Regions from separate parts of the Homo sapiens genome. Here region 1 is linked to region 2. The links come from fine-mapping of genetic effects on gene expression. A gene starts in region 2. The other region holds a variant in brackets. All regions are shown on one strand. Distances are from middle to middle. Region 1 overlaps MYT1L (myelin transcription factor 1 like). Region 2 holds the start of MYT1L (myelin transcription factor 1 like).

Region 1 (2,914 bases), 150 kb after region 2:
CTTATTTACTAGAGGGAGTGGCGGGACATGGGATGGTTGACGGGTCTGCAGAACGTGACTTCTTGGGGAGACATGGAGACTTTACAAATGCCTCTCGCAGAAGCTGCTTCCCTCCAATGGTAGTGATGGGGGCAAAGCTAAAAACGTAATTCCAGGATGGGTGCATGAGATTCTCCCTATTATCTGTTCATCGAGGTCCATATTTCTTTTGCGGTGAGCACGCTATCTTGGCTTCAAAAAACGAAAAACATTAACAGTGCGGGACTACAGTTAACCAGTAAGGACCGCAGGACTCGGGAAGGCCCGGCTGCGTCCCCCTCACATAATGACCGCGGAACTCGGGGAGGCCCGGCTACGTCCCCCTCACGAAAGGAACGCGGGACTCGGGAAGGCCCGGAAGGCCTGGCTGCGTCCCCCTCACGTAAGGAACGCGGGACTCGGGAAGGCCCGGAAGGCCTGGCTGCGTCCCCCTCACGTAAGGAACGCGGGCGTCTGGGAGGCCCGGCTGCGTCCCCCTCACGGAAGGAACGCGGGACTCCGGAAGGCCCGGAAGGCCTGGCTGCGTCCCCCTCACGGAAGGAACGCGGGCGTCTGGGAGGCCCGGCTGCGTCCGCCTCACGGAAGGAACGCGGGACTCGGGAAGGCCCGGAAGGCCTGGCTGCGTCCCCCTCAAGGAAGGAACGCGGACGTCTGGGAGGCCCGGCTGCGTCCGCCTCACAGAAGGAACGCGGGACTTGGGAAGGCCCGGAAGGCCCGGCTGCGTCCCCCTCACGTAAGGAACGCGGGCGTCTGGGAGGCCCGGCTGCGTCCCCCTCACAGAAGGAACGCGGGACTCGGGAAGGCCCGGAAGGCCCGGAAGGCCCGGCTGCGTCCCCCTCACGTAAGGAACGCGGGCGTCTGGGAGGCCCGGCTGCGTCCGCCTCACGTAAGGAACGCGGGACTCGGGAAGGCCCGGAAGGCCCGGCTGCGTCCCCCTCACGTAAGGAACGCGGGCGTCTGGGAGGCCCGGCTGCGTCCGCCTCACAGAAGGAACGCGGGACTCGGGAAGGCCCGGAAGGCCTGGCTGCGTCCCCCTCACGGAAGGAACGCGGGACTCGAGGAGGCCCGGCTGCGTCCGCCTCACAGAAGGAACGCGGGACTCGGGAAGGCCCGGAAGGCCTGGCTGCGTCCCCCTCACAGAAGGAACGCGGGACTCGAGGAGGCCCGGCTGCGTCCCCCTCACGTGTGGAGGCCAATCAGGTGAATATATTAGTTTGCACGCCACACAATTTGTGGTGAGTTACTCATATTTGAACAGAGCTATTAAAATACAAGGAAGTAACAAAAACCACACAGTACTGAATGACTAGTTACATTTTAATTAAATAGCACAAATATGTTATATAAGCTTTGTGTGTTGAAAGTGCCCTCATTCCCATTTACCTTCAATGTGTTTGCTATTATTATTATTTTTAAGTCTAGGCCTTTTATAAGGAGGCTT[G/A]TATATAAGAGTGGAATGCTTATTAGGTGCAGAACAGAGAGTTATTGGATGGATATGGAAGAGTTGCTGGCTGGTGACTGGAAGGTTTGCAGCATGAGGGCATTTTCTAAATGCAGGAGCTGTGCTGTCTCAGTGGATCCTCTGACAAGCCTTCTAAAGTAGACGCAATTACTATTTGCATTTCAGAGATGACAAAAGTAAAGGCCAGAGAGGTGGCGAAGCTTACCCGAAGCAATGCAACTACTCATGGGGTGGAGCTTTGCACAGTTGCCAGCTAAAGTGCCGAGCTGCGGCCTCTCTTGGCGGGTCCCTTTCTGGGTAGCTGGAAACCTCAAGCCAACCCCAACCACCGATTTAGGCAGGAGTCTCTCCTACAACTGAAGCTGACGGATGAGGAGAGGCTTATATCATCACAGGAAGAGAACAGAGCTTTCCTCCCACAGCTGGGGAAATCTGCCGGCTCTGCTGGAGAGGCCGCCAGCCCATTGGTGGGCGTGCGGTGCGGGGAGGCTTAGGCGGGAAGAGGAGGTCTTGCTCAGATGAGTGTTATTCCTTTGTTTGGACAGAGGAGGTTGGGCAAATTGGAGTGTAGGATATTTTTGCCTGGAGATTTTTACTTGATGAAATCATCCCATGAAAAAAATCCCCAATTTTTAAAAGCATGCTACTTTGACACATTAAACTCATCATTTTAACATTGATAGAAAGTATTTAAAATGGGCCTTTGCCTGAAAATAAACGTCAGTGGATTGGAAGCACTGAGGGCCTTCGTCCGTTCTGTCCCAACCTTTATGGGCGCTGCACATTTTCACTGTGGAATCTACAGGGACGAACTCTGTCTTGTGTTTACTTTCTACTTGTTTCTCTTGAACACACACATGCATTAACACTGTAATGTATTTATTACTTTGTATGTCATTAATAAGAATATATTTAGATAATATTGAAACAGTATGATTTATTAGTGATTCCTTCTAGGTAGATATCAGCTGTGTTTTTTAGACGTTTAAAATTGTGAACAGCCTCAGCATGACCTACATTATTCAAGCCATCTACCTCCTTCCCTTCTTTTCTTTCCCTCCCTCCCTCTCTCTGTTTCTCTCTCCCCTTTTTTCTTTCTTTCTTTTTCTTTTTCTCTCTTTCTGTCTTTCTTTCTCTCTTTCTCTTTCTCCCTCCCCCTTTCTCTCTCTCTTTCTTTCTCTTCTTCCCTCCCTCCCTTTCTTCCTTCCTTCCTTTTTTCTTCCTTCCTCTCTCTCCTTCCTTCCTTCCTTTTTTCTTCCTTTGTCTCTCTCCTTCCTTCCTTCCTTTTTCCTTCCCTCCTCTCCTTCCTTCCTTCCTTTTTTCTTCCTTTGTCTCTCTCCTTCCTTCCTTTTTTCTTCCCTCCTCTCCTTCCTTCCTTCCTCTCCCTCCTTCCCTCCCTCCCTTCCTTCCTTC
Region 2 (2,914 bases):
AAATGAGTTTAGAAAAATTATTCGTTCTAATTTTTCAACCATTTTTTTGAGAGGTGATAATGGTCTAATTTCCAGAATGCCTTGAAAAACCCTGGAATACTCGGCAGAGGTGCTGCAAAGTAAAGCTTATTTGAGGGCAATCTTGAAGCTATGCCTGAGAATTTTAAACAACAAAATATCCAAGATTTATTTTTTCAATTGTGTTCGATTATTTTATTAGCTAGTAGCTTTCTCTGTTTTAATTCTCTGTGTTGCATAATATCTAGGATACAGTAACAGGCTGGTTGCAAATGCTCGAAACAGAAATAGGTTTCTTCATAGGCTGTGTTTCAGCATGTCCAACTGTGAGCCTGTGAAGCAGAGCATCGGAGTTCTCTCGAGGTCTGTTGCTTCAGATTTGGTTAGAAATTATTGAATCTGGAGTGTAAAAATCTTGTCTGGGCCTTTTAGGCAGCTTGATTTTAAAACTAGCCCTTCTGCCCCAAGACTTATCAACCGCCCCCCCACCCTGTCCCAAAAGAAAAGCTGAAGTAAGTTCAGTGTTAAAATAATGGTGCTGTCAGGCAGGCAGTCTGCATGTGAGCAGCAGAAAATTAGAAGAATAGAACCATCCATTCTCGTTTCCCCCCGCGACATGCACGCACACATACGTGCACACACACACACACACCACACACACACACACAGACAACACCAGTCAGTGAAGGGGGAAAAGGGTGATACCTTTTTAAAAAATGAAAGGCAGTAAGCCATTATTAGCAAGAGCTATATTGAGCATGCTTGCCAGACAAGCAGCAAAGCTGAGCTCCAGTTCCGCCCAGACATGTGCCTTGCCATTTTCATTTTAATCAGCCTGCTCAGGATGGCTGCTGATTCATTTTGCAGGATGTCCCCCTGGGAGCCAAGGTGGAAGCCTGAGGCGAGCTGCTATTGCATCAATGCAGCACATCAGAGCGAGAGCGCGGAGGCAGAGGGAGGAGAGAAAGCCTTCAGCACCGCATCCCGATTTCAATATGGCTAGTTAGAAGGTCCTGCATGAAACCGAGTCTATTGCAGAAAACATAATGAAAGGAAAGGAAAAGAAAAAAGTCACATTGTCATTTCATTATCCAACTATTCTCTCCCCCAACCCCTTCTTGCCACCAACAGACACACACACGTACACATTTTACAGTGACCATGAAAGATTTCAAGCCACTCTGTGGAAGTGTGTGTGTGTGTGTGTGTGTGTGTGTGTGTGTGTACTATTTACCTGGTAACTAGCTGGGGTGGTATACCTGATTTAGCTGGAGACTTTGATTTGTAGGACTGACAACCTTATTATGCAGTGAGTTTATTATTGATATTATTCTGCTCTCGGTTGCCATGGCCACCTTGTGAGAGACATTCAATTTTCTCTCTTCCATCATCATTATCTATGAGGCCATCTGTTGTGGAAAATGAATTCAGCCTCATTTGCATGACTGATAAGCAATTTTTTTTTTTATCTATTTAACAGAAGGTCATATGCCGGGGATTTGGAGCTTGTGAAAAAAAAATGTGGAAAAAAAAAAAAGCCTAGGAGAGGATGAGTGGGAGCGTGTGCATGGGGGTGTGTGGAAGTCAAACAGATCCCTGAGGCCTGCGAGCCTATCGCGCTGCATTTGTCATTCCTGCCCGGGCGACATTTTTTTTTTCCCTAAGCTACTGCACACTAAACAGTGAGAGAGCTTTTCCCTGCAGTCTTGTTGAAGCACCCCGGGTTTTTTGCTCATTGTTGGTGGGTGCATTTTAATTTTTTCATTCCCTGGACTATGGGTTATGATATCCATACTCACTGAAGACAAAAAGCCACCTTTTCTGCGTCTTGGTGGCATGCATGTGTCTCATCATCCTTTCAAACTTGTGGTGGAACAGGGTTTTCTTCCCTGTCTGTGTATTTTGAGCCAGCACAGTTACCAAAATTGAACTTGTCTTTCGCTTGTGAGCGGTTGTGGTCATTGTGAGGTACGTGATGTTCGTTAGGTTAATTTTTCGGGGAACTTAGTGAGCAGGATGTGTTTTACCGTAGCTCAAGGGCTGAGGCTGCTATTCCATTGTCTGCTCCTTTTTAAAGTTATTTTTACAGCATGGCTGGTAGCTGAAATGTTCCTGGACTGGAGGCTTTGTAATCCACAAAAAAATCTGTCTTTAAACTAAAATGGGTATTAGGTTGCATGACTTAACTGTGATGTTGTTTATTAAGAAAAAAAGAAACAAAAACAAAACGGGGTGCATGTATGGTGTTTGGAGGATAAGAGGATACTGAAACAAAAACTTCCCAGAGACTTTACTGGATTACTTTACATTACAAATGAAGCACATCATTTTATGCAAAGGCAATTAAAATGTTAGCTATTTTGGATGAATTTACCTGATGGTAAGAAGAAAGTTGATTTATATTGTTTAAGTGGAGAAACTCAAATAAAGATTTTTAAATTTAACTTAAATGTTTGAAGTTCATAATAATGAAAGAAAATGTTATTTATAACAGAAATATGTCTTTTTGTAACACCTAAATTAATAAACTAAAAGATTAAACTCTACACTTTAGTTTTAAGATAGATCTGAATAAAGCAAAAATATATATGTAAATATTTATATGAAAGTTAGCTATATAAAATATAGAGAACAGATTTTGAATTTAGTATTAACCATGACAATTTCTTGTACCATCAAAGCTATATAAGCTAAATAATTTCTAAGTTACTTAGAGTAAAACTATTTTATATAAGAGCCTTTTTGTTCAAATGTTTATATTTTCTACTAAACAAAATTAACGTCATAGACCAAAGCATCCCAAAACCACCCTTACTGGCATATGAGGGTCTTTCTAATTGTTCATCTTCATTTAGTGTCATGTAGCTTTAAAAATAATAAAGTCATGTCTCCCATA

The links. PIP is the estimated chance that this variant, and not a neighbour inherited with it, causes the effect.
Region 1: its variant is the best candidate, but not a certain one, in a credible set for the expression of MYT1L in testis (GTEx, PIP 0.81).

What each region holds. Positions count from the first base shown.
Region 1 is chr2:2,183,738-2,186,651 of GRCh38, reverse strand. The region is part of intron 2 of MYT1L (myelin transcription factor 1 like); the gene reads left to right. Among named protein-coding and RNA genes, the nearest start is that of MYT1L-AS1, 130 kb to the left of the region's middle. The variant G/A (reference allele first, on the strand shown) is at 1,481.
Region 2 is chr2:2,330,039-2,332,952 of GRCh38, reverse strand. It overlaps MYT1L (myelin transcription factor 1 like), which reads left to right and starts at 1,678. Exons shown (of 25, transcript NM_001303052.2): 1 at 1,678-1,986.